Linked DNA regions of Homo sapiens: all the other regions are linked to region 1. Evidence: fine-mapped expression QTL. Tissue or cell type: whole blood. Region 1 holds a variant in brackets; each other region holds the start of a gene. All regions are shown on one strand. Distances are from middle to middle.

Region 1 (8,101 bases):
AGGTATTACTGTTTTTGTTTTTTGTTTTTACAAAAAAGGAAAAAAGTACATCTCCTGGAAGGGATGCTTTTTAGCTGAGCTCTGGTGGATGAGAGGAGCTAGCCTTGAAAAAGTGAGTAGGGGCTGAGAGTGGGGCTGTATTTCAGACGTAGGGAACTGGAGGAGTAGAGGCAAGGCAATTGATAGGAGTGCTCCCCGAGTTTTCCAGGAACTGGGCAGAAGCAGTCAGACCACTCTGGTTAAATGAGGGAAGGGGAAGAGTGGTCCAGAGTGAGGCTGAAGAGGTCAGTAGGTCTGAGTCAGGGGAGCCCAGGAGCGTCATTTTCTTTTTTGTTTTGTTTTGTTTTTTTGTTTTTGAGACGGAGTCTCACTCTGTAGCCCAGGCTGGAGTGCAATGGCGTGATTTCAGCTCACTGCAACCTCTGCCTCCCAGGCTCACGTGATTCTCCCTCCTCAGCCTCCCAAGTAACTGGGATTACAGGCGCCCACCACGACACCCAGATAATTTTTGTATTTTTATTAGAGACAGGGTTTCACCATGTTGGCCAGACTGGTCTTGAACTCCTGACCTCAGGCGATCCACCCGCCTCGGCCTCCCAAAGTGCTGGGATTACAGGCGTGAGCCACGGTGCCTGGCCAGGAGCATCATTTGCTAGCGTAGCATGGCCCCACTGTGCCGGGGTGGTCTGAGGTGTGTGCAGGAGGGGAAAGGGAAAGGTGAAGGGGCTCAGGGCCTCAGGGCTCTTCCTTTGGACAGTGGGGGATTGTTAAAGAATCCCAATCCCTGTTCTCCAGCCCTGCACGTCCTTCAGTCCCTCAGCGTTACACTTGAGTGGGCTCACTCAGTGAGCAGGAGTTTGCTATAAAGTTGCCAGATGTCTTGGAAAACCAGTTGATCTCTGGGACCAACAATTGCCTATCAAGCCTGTTCATTCGATTCTCAAATATTATTAAGCACTTACCATGATGGGCTCTATTCCAGGAACCGGAAATTTACGAGTGAACAAATGAGACCAAGGTCGTGTTTCCACGGGCTTACATTCTAGTCAGGGAGAGAGACAAGAAACAAATGTACTGTATAAATAACCCATGGCGTGCCGGGCGCTGTGGCTCATGCATGTAATCTCAGCAATTCAGGAGGCTGAGGCAGGAGAATCACTTGAGGCCAGGAGTTCGAGACCAGCCAGGGCAACATTGAGACCTTATCTCTACAAAAATAAAAAACTTAGCCAGGCCTGCACCTGTTAAGTGACAGCTAATTGGGAGGCTGAGGCAAGAGAATCACTTGAGCCCAGGAGTTCAAGGCTATGGTGAGTTATGATGGCACCACTGCATTCCAGCCTGGGCAACAGAGTGAGACCCTGTCTCTAAAAAAGTAAACAAATATGCCATAGTAATAAGTACTGTAAAGAGGAATAAAACAAGTGCTATTTTATTTTATTTTTAAATTTTTGTATTTTTTGTAGAGTTGGGGTTTTGCAGTGTTGCCCAGGCTGGTCTTGAACTCCTGAGCTCAAGCAATCCACCCACCTCGGCCTCCGAAAGTGCTGGGATACAGGCATGAACCGCTGCGCCCAGTCCAAAAGTGAGTGCTATTTTAGACAGTCTAGTCAGGGAGGGCTGCTCTGAGGAGGTGATATTTGAGCAGAGACCATAAGAAACTTGCCTGGTGTTTATTCCGTATCTCTTGCATTTAGCTTGATACTGATGGACATTGTGTGGGCCAGAGGCAGGGATGGTTGGCTATGACCCCAAACCAGATGGCAGGAATAACACCAAGTTCCAGGTGGCAGTGGCTGGGTCTGTGTCTGGACTTGTTACTCGGGCGCTGATCAGTCCCTTCGACGTCATCAAGATCCGTTTCCAGGTACTCTTCCCCTTTTTCCATGCAATGGACTGGAGGACAAGTTCAGTCTTTCTTGCAAAAGCAGTTCCTAAAACTTGGAATTCTATCCAGATGAAGGGCTTGCCTTTTCTGAAAGTTCCCCTTCACATTCCAGCCCACCCCACTGTCCTGACCTTTTTTATTTTGATTCCTAGCTTCAGCATGAGCGCCTGTCTCGCAGTGACCCCAGCGCAAAGTACCATGGCATCCTCCAGGCCTCTAGGCAGATTCTGCAGGAGGAGGGTCCGACAGCTTTCTGGAAAGGACACGTCCCAGCTCAGATTCTCTCCATAGGCTATGGAGCTGTCCAAGTAGGTGGCAAGGGACCTGGCCAGACCTCTGGGGTCACGTTGCTCAGTGGAGGAGCAGAGGGAGGGTGAGGCAAGCAGGAATGCCGCGCAGGGCAGGACGGAAGAGGCAGGCCCCACGCTTCCCACCTGCCTCACCCGGGAGCCTTCCTGACCAGCAGTACCGTAGGCATTGCCCTCCGCCATGTCCCTGCGTCTATCCTGTGTGACTTAGGTGTTGCATCTTGGAGACCGATTTGATGTCATGCCTTCTGTGAGGCTTGGCGAAGGACAGCACTAATGCATTTCAGTTTTTGAAATACCACCTTCACATATGTGGTTCATCTGAACTTCACCACACCGTCATGAGGAGGGCAGGGTAGCTGTCATGTGGATCTCAGGGAGGAGAAGTCAGCTGTCCGAGGCCACACAGCCTGCACATGGCGGGGCTAGGGTTAGAACTCATGCTTCGTTCAGTGGAGCACTAGTATAGTCATAGTGCACAGCATGTGATTTTATGCAGTAGATGTGTTTAAGAACCAGCCCTGTACAGTGCAAACCATGGGCCAGGCCCCTGTTGGAAGCACTTCACATACACTCTGTCACAGCAGTCCTTAAGGTAGGGGCTGTTGTCCCTCCCATGTCATGCATGAGAAGACTGAGGTGGACAGAGCTTACATAATTAACCCAACCAAAGCCACTGGCTAGAAAATGGCAGAGCCACGACCCCCACCTAGGCAGCTAGTGCCAGAGATGTCCCTTCCTACTCTTCCTGTGACATCACAGTGACCGCCCAAGTCAGGTGCTTACTGGCTGGGCATGCCCTGCGATCCTGTCTCTGCACTTGTCTGCAAACAGATATTGCAGCATGACGAATAAATACAGCAACAGGATAGTCTCAAGAAGCCAGGCGTGGGCTGGACTCAGTGGCTCACACCTGTAATCCCAGCATCTGAGCCCGGGAGGCGGAGGCTGCAGTGAGCCACGATCATGCCACTGCACTTCAGCCTGGGCAACACAGCCAGACCCTGTCTCAAAAAAAGAAAAGAAGCCAGGCCATCTTCAGTTGGCTGAAGGAAGATCTGAGCATAGCCCTGGTATAGTGGCTCACACCTGTAATCCCATCACTTTGGGAGGCTGAGGTGGGAGGATGGCTTGAGCTCAGGAGTTTGAGACCAGCCTGGGCAACATTAGGGAGACCTCCTCTCTACTAAAAATAAAAAATAAATTAGCCAGATATGGTGGTACACACCTGTCGTCCCAGCTATTCCAGAGGCAGGAGAATAATTTGAGCTAGAGAAGTCAAGGCTGCTGTGAACTGTGATCGAGCCACTGCACTCCAGCCTGGGCAACTGAGCACGACCTTGCCTCAAAAAGCAAAACAGGGCCAAGCTCGGTGGCTCATGTGTGTAATCTCAGCCCTTTGGGAGCCCAAGGCGGGCAGATTGCTTGAGCTCAGGAGTTTGAGACCAGCCTTGGCAACATAGTGAAACCCTGGTTCTACAAAAAATACCAAAATTAGCTGGACATGGTGGCATGCGCCTGTAATCCCAGCTACTTGAGGAGCT[G/T]AGGTGAGAGGATCACTGGAGCCCAGGAGGTTGAGGCTGCAGTGAGCCGTGTTTGTGCCACTGTACTCCAGCCTGGGTGACAGAGAGACACTCTTGTCCCTAAAAAAAAAAAAAAAAAAAAAAAAAGAAAGATCTGAATGTAAGGGGGTCACCCTGTGGAACATGCTCCCAAAAGAATCTGCCCCAGAAAAGAATGATTCTCGAACAGTGCCGCCACCAGGTGCCGCCGCCAGCTGCACTGAAGGGGTCCCTGCAGGAATCAGAGCATGGCCGTCTTCCCCAGTTCTCAGAAAACTAAGTTAGCCAGTGACATTTTCTGATATACATTGTTCTCATGTATCTTTTTTATTTTTTCTTGAGACAGAGTCTCACTCTGTTGCCCAGGCTGGAGTGCAGTGGCGCAATCTCAGCTCACTGCAACCTCCGCCTCCTGGGTTCAGGCGATTCTTCTGCCTCAGCCTCCCAAGTAGCTGGGGTTACAGGCCCACGCCACCATGCCTGGCTAATTTTTGTATTTTTAGTAGAGACAGGGTTCCACCATATTGGCCAGGCTGGTCTCCAACTCCTGACCTCATGATCTGCCCACCTCGGCCTTCCAAAGTGCTGGGATTACAGGCGTGGGCCACTGCACCCAGTCTTTTTTTTGAGACCGAGTCTTGCTCTGTCGCCCGGGCTGGAGAGCGCAGTGGCATGATCTTGGCTCAGTGCAGCTCTGCCTCCCGGGTTCAAGTGATTCTCCTGCCTCAGCCCCCCAAGTACCTGGGACTACAGGTGCCCGCCACCATGCCTGACTAATTTTTGTATTTTTAGTAAAGACAGGGTTTCACTATGTTGACCCGGCTGGTCTCGAACTTGTGACCTCGTGATCTGCCCGCCTCGGCCCCCCAGAGTGCTGGGATTACAAGTGTGAGCCACTGCACCTGGCCCCCATATATCTTCTTAACCCTTTGAGTGTCTGACTCTACTCAAGTATCAAATGGCATCCGAGTTTTGCGTAGAATGTTGTATTTATCATATGCTGTCACTGCTCAAGAAGAACATTTCCTGACCTTTTCCTCGCCCCTCCACCTGGGCCCCAGCCGGGTCACGGGTGATGTATTTGGGGAGTATTTGGTCCTCACCCTCATCCTTTGGGCTGTCGGTGACTTCTTCACTTACTCTTGCAGTTCTTGTCATTTGAAATGCTGACGGAGCTGGTCCACAGAGGCAGCGTGTATGACGCCCGGGAATTCTCAGTGCACTTTGTATGTGGTGGCCTGGCTGCCTGTATGGCCACCCTCACTGTGCACCCCGTGGATGTTCTGCGCACCCGCTTTGCAGCTCAGGGTGAGCCCAAGGTGAGTGGCCAGGAGCCAGACCGGGGAAGCCCAAATAAGGAAGGTGTTGTCACAGGGGTAGCATTCTTTATTTTTTATTTATTTATTTATTTATTTTTGTTTTGTTCTGTTTTGTTTTGTTTGAGACAGAATCTCGCTCTGTCATGCAGGCTGGAGTGCAGTGGTGCGATCTTGGCTTACTGCAAGCTCCACCTCCCGAGTTCAAGCGATTCTCCTGCCTCAGCCTCCCGAGTAGCTGGGATTACAGGCACCCGCCACCACGCCTGGCTAATTTTTTTTGTATTTTTAGTAGAGACGGGGTTTCACCATGTTAGCCAGGATGGTCTCGATCTCCTGACCTCACGATCCGCCCGCCTCGGCCTCCCAAAGTGCTAGGATTACAGGCATGAGCCACTGCGCCCGGCCTATTTTTTATTTATTTATTTATTTATTTTGAGACAGAGTCTCGCTCTGTTGCCAGGCTGGAGTGCAGTGGTGCGATCTATTTTTTTCTTTTATTTGATAAGCATGTTTTTTTTAAATATATGATTTTTATTTTTATTTTTATTTTTAGTTATTTATTTATTTTTTTTGAGACAGAGTCTCACTCTGTCGCCCGGGCTGGAGTGCAGTGGCACAGTCTCGGCTACTGCAAGCTCCGCCTCCTGGGTTCACGCCATTCTCCCTCCTCAGCCTCCCGAGTAGCTGGGACTACAGGTGCCCGCCACCACGCCCAGCTAATTTTTTGTATTTTTAGTAGAGACAGGGTTTCACCAGTCACAGGATGGTCTCGATCTCCTGACCTCGTGATCCGCCTGCCTCGGCCTCCCAAAGTACTGGGATTACAGGCGTGAGCCACCGTGCCCGACCTATTTTTATTTTTATTTTTTTCAAGAGACGGAGTCTCGCTCTTATTGCCCAGGCTGGAATGCAATGGCCAGATCTCGGCTCACTGCAACCTCTGCCTCCTGATTTCAAGCAGTTCTCCTGCCTCCGCCTCCCAGTAGCTGGGATTACAGGCGCCTGCCATCATGCCCAGCTATTTTTTGTACTTTTAGTAGAGACAGAGTTTCGCCATGTTAGCAGGCTGGTCTTGAACTCCTGATCTCAGGTGATCCACCCGCCTCGGCCTCCCAAAGTGCTAGGATTACAGGCGTGAGCCACCGCACCTGGCCTATATATATATTTTTTGAGACAGTGTCTTGTTTTGTTGCCTAGGCTGCAGTGCAGTGGCATGATCACTGCTCACTGAAGCCTCGACCTCCTGGGATCAAGTGATCCTTCTGCCTCAGCCTCCCCGGTAGCTGAGACTACACCTGGCTGAGTTTTGTATTTTTTTAGAGACGGGGTTTCGTCATGTTGCCCAGTCTGGTCTTGAACTCTTGAGCTCAAGCCGTCTGCCCGCCTCGGCCTCCCAAAATGCTGGGATTACAGGCATGAGCCACCGCACTCGGCAGAGGTTGAGTTCTTGTCCTTGCAGAAAGCAAAGCTGGGAGAGGTTCGGGTTTTCAGTTTGTCTGGCAGTCAGTTTGTAAAACCCATGACTGTGGGCAGCACTGTGCGGGGTGCTCTATGTCCCTGCCTCAAAGGAGCTCACAGCCTCCCTGGAAGACAGAACCTACTGCTATGAAACAGAACAAATAATTACCCAGCAGTGGGCTGGATCAAGGACTGCCCACTTGAGAATTTATTGCTGGATTATTATGAGAGCGTCTTTGTTTTTTTGTTTGTTTGGTTGGTTGGTTTTTTGAGACAGTCTCACTTTGTTGCTCAGGCTAGAGTGCAGTGGCGCAATCTCAGCTCACTGTAACCTCTGCCTCCTGGGTTCAAGCGATTCTCCTGTCTCAGCCTCCTGAGTAGCTGGGATTACAGGCACGTGATGCCATGTCCGGCTAATTTTTATATTTTTCGTAGAGACAGGGTTTCACCATGTCGGCCAGGCTGGTCTCAAACTCTTGACTTCAGGTGATCCCCTGGCCTCTGTCTCCCAAAGTGCTGGGATTCCAGGCATGAGCCACCACGCCCGGCCAATTGCGAGTGTCTTTGGTTTCCACAAAGAATGGGCTGGTGGAAATGGGATAGACTCGAGGAAGAATTTACTGAGTGAAAACAAGGGATTAAATCCTGAAATAGACCTCCCCACCATGATCTCTGTTTCCTGGACATATTTAAGAATAGCATCATATGTATGTGTGTCTGTGTGTTCTCAACCAAGAAAGAATAATTTTATTGTTATTATTTATATATATTTTTTGAGACAGGGTCTTGATCTGTCACCCAGGCTGGAGTACAATGGCTGCAATAGCTTGCTGCAGCTTCGAACTCCTGGGCTCAAGCAATCTTCCTGCCTCAACCTCTCAAGTAGCTAAGACCACAGGTGTGTGCCATCACACCTGACTAATTTTTTATTTTTTTATTTTTTGTAGGGGCAGGGTCTCATTATGTTGCTCAGGCTCAGGCTGGTCTTGAACTCCTGGTTTTTTTTTTTTTTTTTGGTTGTTGTTTGTTTGTTTTTGAGACGGAGTATGGCTCTGTCGCCCAGTCTGGAGGCACAATCTCAGCTCACTGTGACCGCCTCCCAGATTCAAGTGATTCTCATGCCTCAGCCTCCCAAGCAGCTGGGACTACAGGTCCGCTACCATGCCCAGCTAATTTTTTTTTCAGATGAAGTCTCACTCTGTCGCTGAGGCTGCAAGCTCCACCCCCAGTTTTAAGTGATTCTCCCGCCTCAGCCTCCCAAGTAGTTGGGATTACAGGCGCCCACCACCGCGCCTGGCTAATTTTTGTATTTTTAGTAGAGACGGGGTTTTGCCATGTTGGCCAGGCTGGTCTTGAACTCCTGACCTTGTGATCCACCCATCTCTGCCTCCCAAAGTGCTAAGATTACAGGCGTGAGCCACCGCGCCTGGCCATGCCTGGCTAATTTTTATATTTTTAGTAGAGATGGGATTTTGACATGTTGGCCAGGCTGGTCTGGAACTGCTGGCCTCAAGTGATCCGCCCACCTGAGCCTCCCAAAGTGCTGGGATTACAGGCATGAGTCAC
Region 2 (8,101 bases), 240 kb after region 1:
CATGACCTTTTCTCCAACATAAATTAGTCAAACGCCAGGGTATGTTCTGCTCACTCCATTTCAACCCTCCTTTCCCTACCTGGCACCTGCCCATTAGCTGCAGGACACTTTTCCCATATGTCACTTAGTTCCTGGAACTAGTCATGTTGGACACCTCCTGAACTTGATATTTTTGTCCAATCTGCCCTCAAAAGGACTGGGGGTGGGGGTGGAGGTGTGTGTACAAATTTATGTGGGCCAAACTTAATAGGATGCTAATCATTTGAACAATATAAAAGGCAACCATTTAAAGACTTGCATGCTAAATGAACTCAAAGGCCTTAGGGCAACTATGAGACGTGTGATCCTATAGGAATAAATTTGCTATAAAGGCCATTATTAGGACAACTGACAAAACTGCAATATAAGCTGTAGATAAAAGCATCAGTATTAAATTTCCTGAGTTTGATAACTGTACTGTCTGTGGTTACATAAAACAGTATCCTTGTTCTTGGGAAATATATACAAATATTAAGGGGTGAAATCTGCAATCTATTCTCAAATAGTTCAGAAATAACTGTGGTGGGAGAGGCAAGAGGATGGGGGTAGGGAGGGGGAAATAGAGAATGAAGGACAATGCAAATATGATTTAAAAAAAAAAAAGGTCGGGCATGGTGGCTCACGCCTGTAATCGCAGCATTTCGGGAGGCCAAGGCGGGTGGATCACGAGGTCAGGAGTTCAAGACCAGCCTGACCAACATGGTGAAACCCCCGTCTCTACCAAAAATAAAAAAATTAGCCAGGCGTGGTGGCATGCACCTGTAATCCCAGGTACTCAGGAGGCTGAGGCAGGAAAATCGCTTGAACCCGGGAGGTGGATGTCGCAGTGAGCTGTGATAGTGCCATTGCACTCCAGCCTGGGCAACAGAGGGAGACTCTGTCGCCAAAAAAAAAAAAAAAAAAAAAAAAGGTCGGGCGCGGTGGCTCATGTCTGTAATCCCAGTACTTTGGGAGGCTGAGGCAGGCAGATCACAAGGTCAGGAGATCGAGATGAGACCATCCTGGCTAATATGGTGAAACCCTGTCTCTACTAAAAATACAAAAAATTAACTGGGTGTGGTGGTGGGCGCCTATAGTCCCAGCTACTCGGGAGGCTGAGGCAGGAGAATGACGTGAACCTGGGAGGTGGAGCTTGCAGTGAGCCGAGATTGCGCCACTGCACTCCAGCCTGGGCAACAGAGCAAGACTCCGTCTCAAAAAAAAAAAAAAAGCTGGGCATGATGGCTCATGCCTATAATCGCAGCTACTCAGGAGGCTGAGGCAGGAGGAGCATGTGAGGCCAGACATTTGAGACCAGCCTGGGCAAGATAAGATAGACTCTGACTCTTAAAAAAACAACAAAAAGATCTCCCCATACCCCAAATATGACAAAAATAACATTGAAAATTGGTTAATCTGGGATATAGGGAGTTCTCTGTGTTATTCTTGCTCTTTTCTTGCTTATTTTGAAGTTTTAAATTACTTCAAAATAAAGTTTTTTTAATTAAAGGCATTAGAAAAGATACTTAACTAAAAGAGGGTAATTGAATTTTTGTATCACAAAGGATAAATGCTTGAGGGGATGGATACCCCATTCTCCATGATGTGCTTATTTCACACTGCATGCCTATATCCAAACATCTCAGGTCGGGCGCGGAGGCTCAGGCCTGTAATCCCAGCACTCTGGGAGGCTGAGGCAGGTGGATCACTTGAGGTTAGGAGTTCAAGACCAGCCTGGTCAACATGGTGAAACCCTGTCTCTACTAAAAATACAAAAAATTAGTCAAGCATGGTGGTGCACGCCTGTAATCCCAGCTACTTGGGAGGCTGAGGCAGGAGAATCGCTTGAACCCAGGAGGCTGAGGTTGCAGTGAGTCAAGATTGTGCCAGTGCACTCCAGCCTGAGCGAAGAAAAAAAAAAGAAAAATCTCATGTACCCCATAAATATATACACCTACTAGGTACTTACAAAAATTAAAAAAGAAAAATAAATAAGATTAAGATCACCCATGAGTTGGTAATTGTTGAAGCTGGATAGTGGATGCAAGGAATTCACTGTATGTACTATTCCCATTACTTCTGTATGCGTTTGAAATATTGTTTAAAAAGGGACATTTAAAAAAAGAGAGAGAGAGCAATTCCTCTTTCTACTAGCTGAAACAGAGTTGTTTCACAGTCACTTCATTAACTAGTACAGCCATTACAAGCTTTCTTACTCAGAGCCAAAGCTCCCAGATCAGGGTGCCCTGGATTTAGGGACAGTCCCCTTTACAACTGAATGCCTTCAGTGGGACCATGCCAAGCCTTGTAGAAAGTGGACTAGACCCACTTATAGTCCCAATGCCCTACAAACCACAAAGATGAGGCAAGTAATGATACACCTGACAATGAACTAGAGAATGAATTAGGTCAGCTGCAAACATTTACAGGGAAGCATGAGGCCAGAGTCTTAAAAGAAATGAGGCCAAGCCTTTATTATTTTTGTACAACTGTGAGTTCAAACCAAAATTAAAACTATAAATAATTGAATGTCAGAGATGTCTTGCTTCTTCAGACTACAGACACTCACTGCTAGCACACAAACAAATGTAAAAAAAGGATCGTGACAATTCTGGAGATTCGGAAAGAACTCCTGAAGTTATCTGCAAAGCGGAGCTACCTATCTTCCTTCTCACCCAGGAAGCTGAACAAAGCCTAAGGAGGCTTCCTTAATCATGACTCCCTCAGACAAGACTGGTAGTTTCTGCTCTGTTTCATAAACCTGAAACTATACCTGCACATGCGCCTGATGAAAATGTCAAACAAAATTGAAATCTGTAAAACAACTTTAAAGATTCTACTTGCATTTTGAAAATCCCCAATGCAAACAGTGCGCTTACCTTCTTCTGCCAACTCCTTAGTGATGATGAGTTTCCCGTGGCGGAGGTAGTTGAGGATAGGACCAAAGTAGGTGGGGTCCCTGTCAATCAGATAGGCTCCTGTCTCATCCTGCCAACCAAACACAAGGGTATCATTGTGGACCTTTGAGGAGTATTTTAAACAAAGGCAGGGCAGGATTTCACCATCTTTGTCAGCGCCCCAAGACAACAATTCATTCCATCAGCTAAAAAAGACTTTAGTGATGGCAAATTTTGTTACACATTTGTCACAAACTATTGGTAAGAAAGCTATAGCTTTATGTATCTTGTACATTAAGATCATCTTAGGTAGGGTGTTACAGACAGTCATACTCATTTAGGCGTTTACTTACTGGCTGGAATTTGCAATCTTTGCCTGGACAATAATTACAGTGACAAACATTCTTCTGTAGCGTGTTTGTTATTAAGAAAGGGAGAAAATGCCGTAGCTGTGTAACTGAAATCTTTGCTTGAGATGGACATTCTGACTTTTCCACTGCCTCTGAACTGCATTCCTAATTCCAAGAAAACCTCTGTGTAGTTGGCAATGCTCCTGAGCTCAAGGCCAACATCAGTGGGAGTTTGCACTGCCAGCTGTAATCTCACACACCCCAGCTCTGTGCCCAGAGGAAGCTCGGTACTGCCAGGACTTGGCTCTGAGCAGCTTTAATCCTACTCATCTTTACAGTAAAAGGAACAAGAAGAAACTGGCTTCTATTACCACAAGGAGGATATAGAGTAGATAAAAATAATTCCTTTATAAGCAAGGGTTTTGAAATCTCTTTAAAGTTAGGGCAGGATAGGTTTCCATCAATCTGAGATTTCTTAGAGAAGAGGAATAAACGAAAACAACAAATGTTTACGCAACTCCAGCTCTGTTTTGAGGTCACCAGCTGAGTGCTATATGGGATATAAGATGGTGTGAGTTATGGTCAGTGCCTTTAAGTTGAGAACTTAAAGGTGAATACGTAAAGTTAAAAAGAAATTGACACAGTTCAAACTGGAAATGGTTTAAGTGTCTTGTCACCTCTCAACCCTTTGGTTAGCAGCCATGCATCCTGCCCAAAATTTTCCCGGGAAAATTTTCATTTTCCTTCTGTCTTAGCCTAGATTTGCAGCGGCAAACAGTAACCTCTTTCCAAAAAACGCATTTGATCTAAATATGGACCTAAACCAGTGACTGTTAACAGATAAAAGTTCTGCGACCAGGACTATAGAAAAGCAGTGTGATATCACAAGGAGCGCTTCCTGCAGCTGTGGAAGCCCAACTTGGCAGAGGGGTCCGAGAGGGAGTCTGAGAAAGCTACAAGGATGCCTGAGCTAACCCTGACCCAGTTCTGGATGCATCTGGCACCGGCAGTGGGGGGACTGAAGAGGAGCCAGGGAAAACTCATGCAGATCTCAGTGGGATGTCAGGGGCAGAGAATATGGAGAAGGGGTGTGGAGTGCGTTCTCGTGGGTGCAGGTGGGCGCAGTGTGGGAAGGAGTCTCAGAGAACGAAGGGCGGGGTCGGGGAGAAAGCCAGAGTATGCCTCAGCATGGAAGAAGGGGAGTGGGAGGTCCCTCTGAGGCCCCTGCGAGTAGTGTGGGAGGGAGGGGGAGGATGGGGTCCCGGCCTGAGGGGGCTGCCTGTGAGGAGCGTGTCTCAGGACTCTGGGGACCGATCTACGAGAAACCAGGGGGTTCGAAGGCCCGGGGGCGCGCCCGAGGGCGGGGCACACCTTGTCTGAGTCCAGCTCCGGGTCCTCCTGGCAGCAGAGGCGGCAGAGAAATGACTTGGGCTCCCGGCCTAAGGTCTGTCTGGTGGTCACGAAGTAGGTGCCTCCCACGTTCAGCCTGACCCAGCGGGCCGCGCCGCCGCCCCCTGCCCGCTCGGGTGGTCCGGGACCCGGCTCCAGCGGCTGCGCGACGGCGGCAGCCGGGCGGCCGTGCCCGCGGGGCGTGGGGCCAGCCGGGCGTGGGCTGGGGGGCCCGCGGACTGGGCCACCCCCGTCGCCCACCCCACTCCCGCCGCCCCCTCCCAGCCCCGCCATCGCCGGGTCCAGCTGCAGTTCCGCCATCTTGGACCGCCGCCGCCACCGCTGCTGCCCGCGCGCAGCCGGGCCGGCCCATTTCTCGGCAGGGAGAGCCGGGCCGGCCCATCGGCGGGGGTGGGGCAGAGGGGAGAGGGACGGGAGCGCCCCCAACCAGCGCCCGGGGACCCGCGCGGGGGAGGCGCTGTGCCCGCCCCCGGGAAGATACTTCCGGAACCAGCCCTCATCTCTATTGGCTGATCTGCGAAGCAAGGCCCACCCCCTTGGCTTTGGGGTTGGCTGAGGAAAGATCTTCCCGTGACCCACTTCCGTTACTTGCTGCGGAGGACCGTGGGCAGCCAGGGTCGGTGAAGGTGAGTGGGGCTTGGGGCATTGGATCCGATCCCTGGAGGGCTCCTCTGCTCTGCCCTCTCCAAACCTCACGCCGACCCTTGTCACGCCCCCGTCAAGGACGCTGGGCCCTCGGCTTGCCCCGCTGGCAGAGTGTCCCTTGTGTAGCTGCCGCTCCTCGCCCCGCGATCCCTTCCTCAGCCCTCCTTGGCGCGCGGGGTCAGGGGGGCCCGGCTGTGTCCCAGGCGCCGCTGATGTAGGCGCTGCCACAAGCCGTGTCTCGTGCAGTCCGCTCCCAGCGCGGCAGACTTCAATAGTTTGGTGGGGGGACTGGGGAAACATTACGCAGACAGTGTTAACCTGCCGAGGGACGCTCAGCTGGCTGCGGGGCTGCGCCCTTCCCCTTCGGCAGCTTCCAGGATTCGAACGTATAGAGCGTTCAGGGCTCCTCGGGTGCAGAGTTCGGTTACTCATTCAAGAAAGATTCATTGAGCACCTCCTATGCGCATGATCTGTTCTAGGCGCTGGGGATTAAGCAATAGATTTTTAAGAATTAAAAAAAATTTCGCCGGGCGCGGTGGCTCACGCCTGTAATCCCAGAATTTTAGGAGGCCAAGGCGGGCGAATCGCGAGGTCAGGAGTTCGAGACCAGCCTGGCCAACGTAGTGAAACCCCGCCTCTACTAAAAATACAAAAAATTAGCTGGGCGTGGTGGAAGGCCCCTATAATCCCAGCTGCTCGGGAGGCTGAGGCAGGAGAATCGCTTGAACCCGGGAGGCGGAGGTTGCAGTGAGCCGAGACCACGCCACTACACTCCAGCCCAGGCGACAGTGCGAGACTCCGTCTCACTCACACACACACACAAAGTTATTTGTGACTTCCATTTTCCACTGATGTTGCGGGAAATCAGGGACCCCAAACAGAGAGACCGGCTGAAACCATGGCAGAAGAACGTGGATTGTGAAGATTTTATGGACATTTATTAGTTCCCCAAATTAATACTTTTGTAATTTCTTATGCCTGTCTTTACTGCAATCTCTAAACATAAATTGTAGAGATTTCATGGACACTTATCACTTCCCCAGTCAATACTCTTCTGATTTCCTATGCCTGTCTTGTCTTTAATCTCTTAATCCTGTCAGTTGAGGATGTATATCGTTCCAGGACCCTGTAATAATTGTGTTAACTACAAAAATTGTACAGCATGTGTGTTTGAGCAATATGAAATGTGGGCACCCTGAAAAAAGAACAGGATAACAGCAATTGTTCAGGGAACAAGAGAGAACCTTAAACTCTGACCGCCGGTGAGCCGGGCAGAACAGAGCCATATTTCTCTTCCTTCAAAAGCAAATGGGAGAAATATCGCTGAATTCTTTTTCTCAGCATGGGATATCCCTGAGAAAGAGAATGCGCACCTAGGGGTAGGTCTCTGAACTGGCCCCCCTGGGGCGTACCTGTCTCTTATGGTTGAGACTGCAGGGGTGAAATAAACTCCAGTCTCCCATAGCGATCCCAGGCTTATTAGGAAAAGGAAATTCCCACCTAATAAATTTTGGTCAGACCGGTTGATCTGAAAACCCTGTCTCCTGATAAGATGTTATCAATGACAATGGTGCCCAAAACTTCATTAGCAATTTTAATTTCGCTCTGGTCCTGTGGTCTTGTGATCTCACCCTGCCTCCACTTGCCTTGTGATATTCTATTACCCTGTTAAGTACTTGATGTCTGTCACCCACACCTATTCGTATACTCCCTCCCCTTTTGAAACTCCCTAATAAAAACTTGCTGGTTTTTGTGGCTTGTGGGGCATCACGGATCCTACCAACGTGTGATGTCTCCCCCGGACGCCCAGCTTTAAAATTTCTCTCTTTTGTACTCTGTCAAGCCAGTCGACGCTTAGGAAAATAGAAAAGAACCTATGTGACTATCGGGGCAAGTTCCCCGATACACTGATGTTTGGGAAAGTCTGTAAGGGTGCTTGGTTCCCTGGTAACTTTAAAATCACATGCCAATTGCCTTAACACCTCCCCTCCACAACAGGAAACAGGCTGTCCTGAGAAAGAAAGGAAGGACAGGACAGGTGTTTGACAACTTTCTTGAAGATCCTGAGAAAGACTGCTTCCGCCTCCCTTGCATTCCACTCCAAGCTTATAGAGATTTTTGACTTTGCAGTCTTTTAATATCTGACCCTGATCTTACTTAAAGAGGACTATTTTCCTATATTCTGACTTTTTTTTTAAGTGGCTGTAGTCGTTTTCTGTATTTTTCTCACATTTTCACATGTGTTGAATACCTCTTAAAATGCAGGCCGGGCGCGGTGGCTCATGCCTGTAATTCCAGCACTTTGCAAGGCTGAGGTGGGTGGATCACCTGAGGTCTGGAGTTTCAGCCCATCCTGGCCAACGTGGAGAAACCCTGTCTCTACTAAAAATACAAAAATTAGGGCCGGGCGCGGTGGCTCACGCCTATAATCCCAGCACTTTGGGAGGCCGAGGCGGGTGGATCATGAGGTCAGGAGATCGAGACCATCCTGGCTAACAAGGTGAAACCCCGTCTCTACTAAAAATACAAAAAATTAGCCGGGCGCGGTGGCGGGCGCCTGTAGTCCCAGCTACTCGGGAGGCTGAGGCAGGAGAATGGCGTGAACCCGGGAAGCGGAGTTTGCAGTGAGCCGAGATTGCGCCACTGCAGTCCGCAGTCCGGCCTGGGCGACAGAGCGAGACTCCGTCTCAAAAAAAAAAAAAAAAATACAAAAATTAGCTGGGTGTGGTGGTGGGTGCCTGTAATCCCAGCTACTCCGGAGGCTGAGGCAGGAGAATCGCT
Region 3 (8,101 bases), 170 kb after region 1:
CAGCACTTTGGGAGGCCGAGGCGGGCAGATCACGAGGTCAGGAGATTGAGCCCATCCTGGCTAACACGGTGAAACCCCGTCTCTACTAAAAGTACAAAAAATTAGCCGGGCCTGGTGGGGGGGCGCCTGTAATCCCAGCTACTTGGGAGGCTGAGGCAGGAGAATGGCGTGAACCCGGGAGGCGGAGCTTGCAGTGAGCCGAGATCGCGCCACTGCACTCCAGCCTGGGCGACAGAGCAAGACTCCATCTCAAAAAAAAAAATAAATAAATAAAAAGTATTTTTAAAAATGTGTTAGTTGGGCCAGGTGTGGTGGCTCACGACTGTAACCCCAGCACTTTGGGAGGCTGAGGCGGGCGGATCACCTGAGGTCAGGAGTTTGAGACCAGCCTGGCCAACACGGTGAAACCCCGTCTCTACTAAAAACACAAAAATTAGCCGGGCGTGGTGGCGGGCGCCTATAATCCCATACCCGGGAGGCTGAAGCAGGAGAACTGTCTGAACCCAGGAGGCAGAGGTTGCAGTGAGCTGAGATTGCACCACCGCATTCCAGCCTGGGCGACAGAGCAAGACTCCATCTCAAAAAATAAAATAAAATAAAATAAAATAAAATAAAAAATGTGTTATTTGATCCTATCAAGACATTCAACCCAATTTCTGGATTATAGGAAATAAAGGGGATAAAGAAACCACAAAGAGGCAATGAGACAAACCGGAAGGGGGAACATTTGCATTCCTGGTTGGGGCCTTCGAGAATCAGTGTTATGAAATGAGGGTCTGTTTAGGGTTACAAGGGATTTATTTCTTGGGGCCAGGAGTTCGAGACCAGTCTGGGCAACACAGTGAGATCCTGTCACAACAAAAAATTAAAAAAAAAAAAAATTAGCTGGGCATGGTGGTGCACACCTGTAGTCACAGCTACTCGGGAGGCTAAGGCAGGAAGACTGCTTGAGCCCAGGAGTTCAAGTTTATGGTGAGCTATGATCACACCACTGCACTCCAGCCTAAGTGACAGAGTGAGACCCTATCTCAAAAAAAAAAAAAAAAAAAAGAAAAAGAGAATAAAAAGAGAGATTTAAGATAATTTATGTAGTGACTTCCTTCCAATGGGTATCATACGTAAAGAGGGGAAAGAAAGAGTAATTTTACAGTGGAGAAGCCTGACAAGACTTCAGCCAGGTGACTACGCGCGTGTTGGCCAGGCTGCAGTGCAGTGGCTATTCACAGGTGCAATCGTGCAATCACAGCACACGACAGCCTCAAATTCCTGGGCTCAAGCGATCCTCTTGAGTATCTGGGACTACAGGTGGGCACTGCATTGCTTGAAAAAGGAATTTTTGTTTGTTCTCAAAATTTTGTTTGCTTCAAACTATTTCCCACGGCCTAGATCTAAACTCCTGCAAGCTCTGGTGCCACTGAACTCTCTAAACTCTTTTTGTGCCATTCTCCACTTCACTGCAACGATCCTCCCACATCAGCCTTCCGTCTGGCTCCTTCCTGTTTTAAGGCCTTTGCCCATGCTGTGTCCCGGCTAAAATGCCTTTCTCATGATGGCCAAAACTGAAGTAACCCCCACCTTCCACTGCTGTCTCTCATCACCCCATTTACTTCCTTCTGAGCATCATCTTTTTTGTTTGCTAACCACCTGTCCCCCCTACTAGAATGTAAGCTCCTGAGGGGCAAAGACCTTTCCCTAAGCTGTTCACCATACTCCAGCATTTAGAGCAGTAGCTTGCATATACGGTACACGCGCAATAAATATCTACCCAGTGAATAACTCAATAGGTCTTAAGATCATAACAACTACAGAAGCCATAAGTTACAGACTGCAAGCCATCTCTGCTTCTCTTGATATGAAAACACTAAATATGAGTTATTTTTGTTTTTGAGACAGATTCTCGTTTTGTCACCCAGGCTGGAGTACAGTGGCCCAATCCCAGCTCACTGCAGCCTTGACCTCCCAGGCTTAAGCAATCCTCCCACCTCAGCCTCCTGAGTAGCTGGGACACCACGCCAGACTAATTTTTTTTTTTTTTTTTTTAAAGCAGAGATGGGGTTTTGTCATGTTGCCCAGGCTGGTCTTGAACTCCGGAACTCAAGTGATCTCCCTGCTTCGGCCTCACAAAGTGCTGAGATTAAAGGTGTGAGCCACCTCACCCGCCTGAAATTGCTTTTTTTTTTGAGACAGAGTCTCACTGTTGCCCAGGCTGGGGTGCGGTGGTGCCATCTTGGCTCACTACAACCTCTGCCTACCGGGTTCAAGCGATTCTCCTGCCTCAGCCTCCCAAGTAGCTGGGATTACAGGCGCCCACCACCATGCCCGGCTAATTTTTGTATTTTTAGTTAGAGATGGGGTTTCACCATGTTGGCCAGGCTGATCTTGAACTCCTGACCTCAGGTGATCCGCCCACCTCAGCCTCCCAAAGTGCTGGTGCTGGTATTACAGGTGTGTGCCACCGCGCCCGGCTACAAAACTGCTCTTTTTAAAACATATTTTTTTGAGACATGGTCTCACTCTGTCGCCCAGGCTGGAGTGCAGTAGCACAATCTCAGCTCACTTCGGCCTCTGCCTCCCAGACTCAAGCAATACCTCCTGCTTCAGTCTCCAGAGTAGCTGGGCCTACAGGTGCACACCACTGTGTGCGGCTTTTTTTTTTTTTTTTTTTTTTTTGAGACGGGGTCTCACTCTTGTCCCCGAGGCTGTGGTGCAGTGGCACGATCTCAGCTCACTGCAACATTTGCCTCCTGGGTTCAAGCTTCTCCTGCCTCAGGCTCACTAGTAGCTGGGATTACAGGCACTCTCCACCACGTCTAGCTAATTTTTGTACGAGACGGGGTTTCGCCATGTGGGCCAGGCTGGTCTCGAACTCATGACCTCAGGTGATCCGCCCGCCTTAGCTTCCCAAACTGCTGGGATTACAGGTGTGAGCCACCACGCCCGGCCCCAAGGACTCACTTCTAATTCACTTATCTCACCCTGGCCCATTTAGGCATCTAGGGAACGGGCCCCGCCCTTACCAATAGCAAACTCCACCAGGGTCTCATTCTCCTCCGACAGCGAATCGAGAAATAAATCCAGGACCTGCAGCTGCCGCAGATACTCGTAGTTGCTGGGGTCATAAGCGAAGTTGGCGAGGTTGGCGAGGACTTGCTCCTTGGCGTCTGCAACGGGAAAGCGGCACTGAAGCCAGGTCCGGGCGGCGGTCACAGCGGACCCTGCCACCTGATCCCACCGTGGCTCTCACCTTGGCTTTGGGTCTCCTGGAATTCCGTGACCAGCGCCTGCAGGTATCCCAGCCGCCCGACGTGGGGGTCCACCTTCGGCTTCTGGGCCATGGCCGCGGTGACGGAGGACCCCCAGGGACGGGCGGGAGGGTGGGAAAGGTGCAGGGGGAAAGCCGAGCGAGACCCTCACCCGCTCTCCACCTGTCTGGAGAGGGAAGAGGGGGTCGGCAAATGGGTTTCTTTCCTGGGTTCAGATTCTGCAGTAATTTGCAGCTGGAAATGGGATATGGGAGATGGGACGGGGTCTCAGAATCCTGTAGGAGTTGCGTTTGAAAATCGAAATTGGGGCGCGGGAGACAGGGAACCGTCTACTGGTTGGGGCTCGCGGAGGGGGCACTGGCGCACCGTCCCCGGCTCCTGGGCTCGGTTCCGGGCTCCCGGCGGAAGCCGCGCTGTCCCTACCCCCGAAGGGGCGGGGCCGTCGCCGAACTCCTTGGCGCGCGTGCGCGGCGCGCTTCTGGTTTTCTGGATGCCGAAGCTCTTTAGCCTGTGCTGGAACCAGCGGCGAGCGGCTTCGCTGAGGCAGGTGCAGGCGTGGGTGGGTGTACTGCGAGGAGCAGCCTGGCCTCCCGTATCCCATGTCCAGATGCAAATTACTGCAAAATCTGAACGCAAGAAAGAAACCCACTTGCCGCCCCCGCCAACAGATGGGCGAGTGAGGGCCTCGCTCGGCTTTCCCGCCCCACCTTTCCCACTCTCCCGCCGGTCCCCCGGGGTCCTCCGCCGTCCCGACATGGCCCAGAAGCCGAAAATGAGACACCCATGTCGGGTGGCTGGAATTCCGCCAGGAGCAACTCAGGAGCGCAGCAGAGTCTGGCAGCACCCATGTTGGAGGACGTCGAGGCAGAAGCACCTCCAGGGTCCCCACGGCTGGCGGGGGCGCGGCCCATCCTCCTTGACCAGGACGCCCCTTTGGAGCGCGGGCGTCAGCTCCTTACGCCCCCCATCAGTCCTTTGCCCCTTTTGCAAAAAGCCTAGCGACCCCGACCCGCCCTCCATCCCAGCCCCGAGGTGGGTCCGCCACCTCTGGACAGAAATCAAAGGGTACTGGGTCATGTCCTGGTGCTTTTTGTCAGCCGGGTGGATGGCGCGCGCCCGGGGCAGCACGGGGGAGCCCGAGGAGGAGCCTTGATTGTGGCGCTTTCGGGGCTTTCTGGATGCTGAAGCCCTTCGGCCGATTCCTTCTCGGAGATTATCAGGAAGCGGGTGTGTGATAGATTGCTCGTGGTTACAGGAAACAAAGCACCAGGGAAGGAGGTGGTCTAGCCACACTCCCATCGCATTTGACAACGTAGGGGTAGAGGTGGCTTAGGCTGTGAGTGTCCTGAGAGTGCAAAAGTTGTTAATCTAAATGGAGTCACTTGTGTTAAAAAACAGAACAAAAAAACCCGGACACAGCCCAAGAAACCCATGACAAGAGGGTTCTCGTGCATAAATACCTGATAATGAAAACTATCACAAAGACTCTGCAAAAACCACAACCTTGCACAAAGGGCGTCACAACCTTGCACAAAACATACTTTTGAATGGCCATCTGCCCAGCAACCGCTTGTCCAACCTTGAGCGGTCACCCTTGTTATTAATCCTTCTACCTAAGGATAAATATTTCAAAACAATTATGTAATCCTATTTTTTCCCTTAAAGCCTGTCTTCCTTTACCTCCCTGAATACCCATATAGTTTACTATGGCATGGATACTACCATTGCAATGCCCTATGCCCAAATAGATATCATTTTCTTTGAGAGAGCCTCTCTGTTATTTAGGCTGACAAAGGCAAGGACCATTATCTTAAGCCCTGGGCCCGGATGAAGGCAGAGTGGCCGTCACACTCCAGCCAGCTGCAGCCCCATTGGAAGCAGGCCTCACCTCTGAGGTTTCAGGTCCTTGTGGTCAGCCCCTGCCCTATGTACACCCTCTGAGGCAGGAGTTTCTAACTTAGTCTGGGTACCTAGGCCCCAGGACCCTCACCAAAGCCCTTTGGCTTCTCTTGGGAGCCTCTGCAGCCTGGGAAGTGCATCTTACCCCTAGGTGCCCAAGGGGTTTCTCTGCCTCTTGCTGGACAGAGCAGCAAATAGGAGCCCAGAAACAGGGAGGATGGAAGTAAGCTCCATCCCTCCCTGCCCAGGAACTGCCCCAGACCTTCTCTAGAGGTTCGCAGGCAATCAGCTAGATGGGGATTGCTGAATCAGATGGGCCACCCCATCTTCCCTCATTGGTCTTCTCCCTTTTTTTCTTTTTGAGATGGAGTCTCGCTCTGTCGCCAGGCTGGAGTACAGTGGTGCGATCTCGGCTCACTACAACCTCCGCCTCAGATTCAAGTGATTCTCCTGCCTCAGCCTCCCGAGTAGCTGGGATTACAGGCACGCACCACTGCACCCAGCTAATTTTTGTATTTTTTTTCTGAGACAGTGTCTCGCTCTGTCACCCGGGTTGGAGTGCAGTGGTGCGATCTCAGCTCACTGGAAGCTCCGCCTCCCAGGTTCACGCCATTCTCCTGCCTCAGCCTCCTGAATAGCTGGGACTACAGGCACCCGCCACGACGCCCGGCTAATGTTTGTATTTTTAATAGAGACGAGGTTTCACCGTGTTAGCCAGGATGGTCTCGATCTCCTGACCTCGTGATCCACCCGCCTTGGCCTCCCAAAGTGCTGGGATTACAGGCGTGAGCCACTGCGCCCGGCCTAATTTTTGTATTTTTAGCAGAGATGGGGTTTCACCTTGTTGGCCAGGATGGTCTCGATATCTTGACCTCGTGATCCACCTGTCTCAGCCTCCCAAAGTGCTGGGATTACAGGCATGAGCCACCGCACCCAGCCAGTCTTCTCCCTTCTTAAGGCCTCAGGGAGGGGCCCTCCTTGGGGTGGAATTCTCAGCCCTTGGTAGGTCTTACCTCTGCCCAGTCTCTGGCACACAGTAGATACTCAGTAAATATTTATTGAAGGAATTCTGCCCAGAGATGATTGCTATTCTTGCCTAGGAGCAGGTGAGATGAAAGTTTCCTATGCAGAACATTCATTGATACCTTTTTTTTTTTTGGGAAGGGGGGACAAGGTCTCTGTCACCCAGGCTGGAGTGCAGTGGTGTGATCACAGCTTACTGCAACCTTGAGCTTCTTGGCTCAAGGGATCCTCCCACCTCTGCCTCCTGAGTGGCTTGGACTACAGGCCTGTGCCACCATGTCCAGCTAAGTTTTAAATTTTTTGTAGAGATGGAGGTCTCCTTATGTGGCCCAGGGTGGCCTCTCAAGTGATTCTCCCATCTTGGCCTTCCAAAGTGTTGGGATTACAGGCATGATCCACCACACTTGGCTTTTTTTTTTTCCCTTTCCTTAATTTTTCTGTAGAGACAGGGTCTCTATGTTGCCCAGGCTGGTCTTGAAGTCCTGGTCTCAAGCGATCCTCCTGCTCTGACCTCCCAAAGTGTTTTTTTTGTTTGTTTGTTTTTTGAGACGAGTCTCATTCCATCACCCAGGCTGTAGTGCAGTGGCGTGATCCCAGCTCACCACAACCTCTTCCTCTCCAGTTCAAGCAAATTTCCTGCCTCAGCCTCCCAAGTAGCTGGGATTACAGGCGACTGCTACCACGCCTGGCTAATTTTTGTATTTTTAGTAGAGCTGGGGTTTTGCCATGTTGGCCAGGCTGGTCTTGAACTCCTGACCTCTAGTGACCCACCCATCTTGGCCTCTCAAAGTGCTGGGATTACAGGCGTGAGCCACCACACCCAGCCTTTTTTTTTTTTTTTTTTTTAAAAAAAAGACAGGGTCTTGCTGTGTTGCCCAGGCTGGCCTCAAACTCCCAGGTTTGAGTGATCCTCCCACCTCAACCTCCCGAGTAGCTGGGATTACATGTGCGCACTGCCATCTCCAGCTGATATCTTTTTTCTTTAAATGTTTTCAGGAAGTGGGCTCATTACGGGATGCACACAAAACCTGGTGGATACTAGCACCAAAAGCACCTATCTACCAGCCCCACCTCCCTCCTTTTCCATTCAACTGAGATGGAGCAGACAGGATTTGGCAAAGTCCATGCAAGCACTCTCCCTTCAGAGCATGTGGTATTGATGGCAGCCAAGTGTAAGACTGGGTGGGGAGCCAGAAGGAAATGGAGTCGTCAGGATGCTCACCGAGTCAGACTTTTCAACCGGAAGAGACTAGCTCATCCAAACCAACCTCCTACGTTTTCTTTTTTAAAATTAAATTTTATTATTTTGCTCTAACAAAGTAACCTCCTACTTTTTCAAGGCTCAGAGGTGGTCAACAATTTGCCCAACTCACATGGCAGATAGTGGCGGAGTCAAACAGGGCACTCAGGTAGGGCTATTCCAGCCCAGAGCCGTTTGCTTGGCCTGCAGTACCGCCTTTGGCCATAAGAGCCACTCATGGCTGGTCCTGGAGGAGGCAGGACATCCCCAAAGATGCTTATTGACGCCAGCTGGACGTGGCTGGCGGGAAGACTGGCACCTGTTCATGAAAATAAAATCTCCTGATAAGGTTTTCTTGCGGAGCCTGGTTGAGCCTGAATCAACAAACAACATCCTGAACCTGAGCACCCCTTGCTGAGCTAGGAGGAAAGGAAGGGTGAGGGGAAACGTACTCCAGCTCTGTTTGTCAGCTTCATTAGTTCACAGAGTTTATGACCTGCTGCAGGGAACATTTTTGTGTGTAATTCAAACACATTCTGTTTTATCATTCCCTCGGTACCCTGCTGGGACAAGAATGGGCTGATGACAGCCAGCCCCTGGGTGGTGACTTCAGGGAAAGGCACCAGCAAGATGTGTGTGTGGGGAGCTTGGACCGCCAGTCACAGGCACAGGTGTA

What was found. PIP is the estimated chance that this variant, and not a neighbour inherited with it, causes the effect.
Region 2: KCTD2 starts here. The variant in region 1 is fine-mapped to the expression of KCTD2 in whole blood (TOPMed, PIP above 0.99).
Region 3: ARMC7 starts here. The variant in region 1 is fine-mapped to the expression of ARMC7 in whole blood (TOPMed, PIP above 0.99).

The regions. Positions count from the first base shown.
Region 1 is chr17:75,280,399-75,288,499 of GRCh38, reverse strand. It overlaps SLC25A19 (solute carrier family 25 member 19), which reads left to right. Exons shown (of 8, transcript NM_001126121.2): 3 at 1,698-1,867; 4 at 2,041-2,196; 5 at 4,907-5,077. The coding sequence starts at 1,736. Among named protein-coding and RNA genes, the nearest start is that of SLC25A19, 5.0 kb to the left of the region's middle. The variant G/T (reference allele first, on the strand shown) is at 3,741.
Region 2 is chr17:75,044,125-75,052,225 of GRCh38, reverse strand. KCTD2 (potassium channel tetramerization domain containing 2) reads right to left here and starts at 5,001. Exons shown (of 6, transcript NM_015353.3): 1 at 4,637-5,001; 2 at 2,898-3,006. The coding sequence starts at 4,975. ATP5PD (ATP synthase peripheral stalk subunit d) reads left to right here and starts at 5,257. Exons shown (of 6, transcript NM_006356.3): 1 at 5,257-5,301. RefSeq lists enhancers at 5,018-5,312, 5,197-5,782, 5,721-5,790 and a silencer at 4,891-5,320.
Region 3 is chr17:75,105,523-75,113,623 of GRCh38, reverse strand. It overlaps ARMC7 (armadillo repeat containing 7), which reads right to left and starts at 3,655. Exons shown (of 3, transcript NM_024585.4): 1 at 3,245-3,655; 2 at 3,018-3,161. The coding sequence starts at 3,335. SLC16A5 (solute carrier family 16 member 5) reads right to left here. Exons shown (of 7, transcript NM_004695.4): 7 at 7,462-7,744. The coding sequence ends at 7,591. RefSeq lists a silencer at 3,585-3,664 and an enhancer at 7,934-8,101.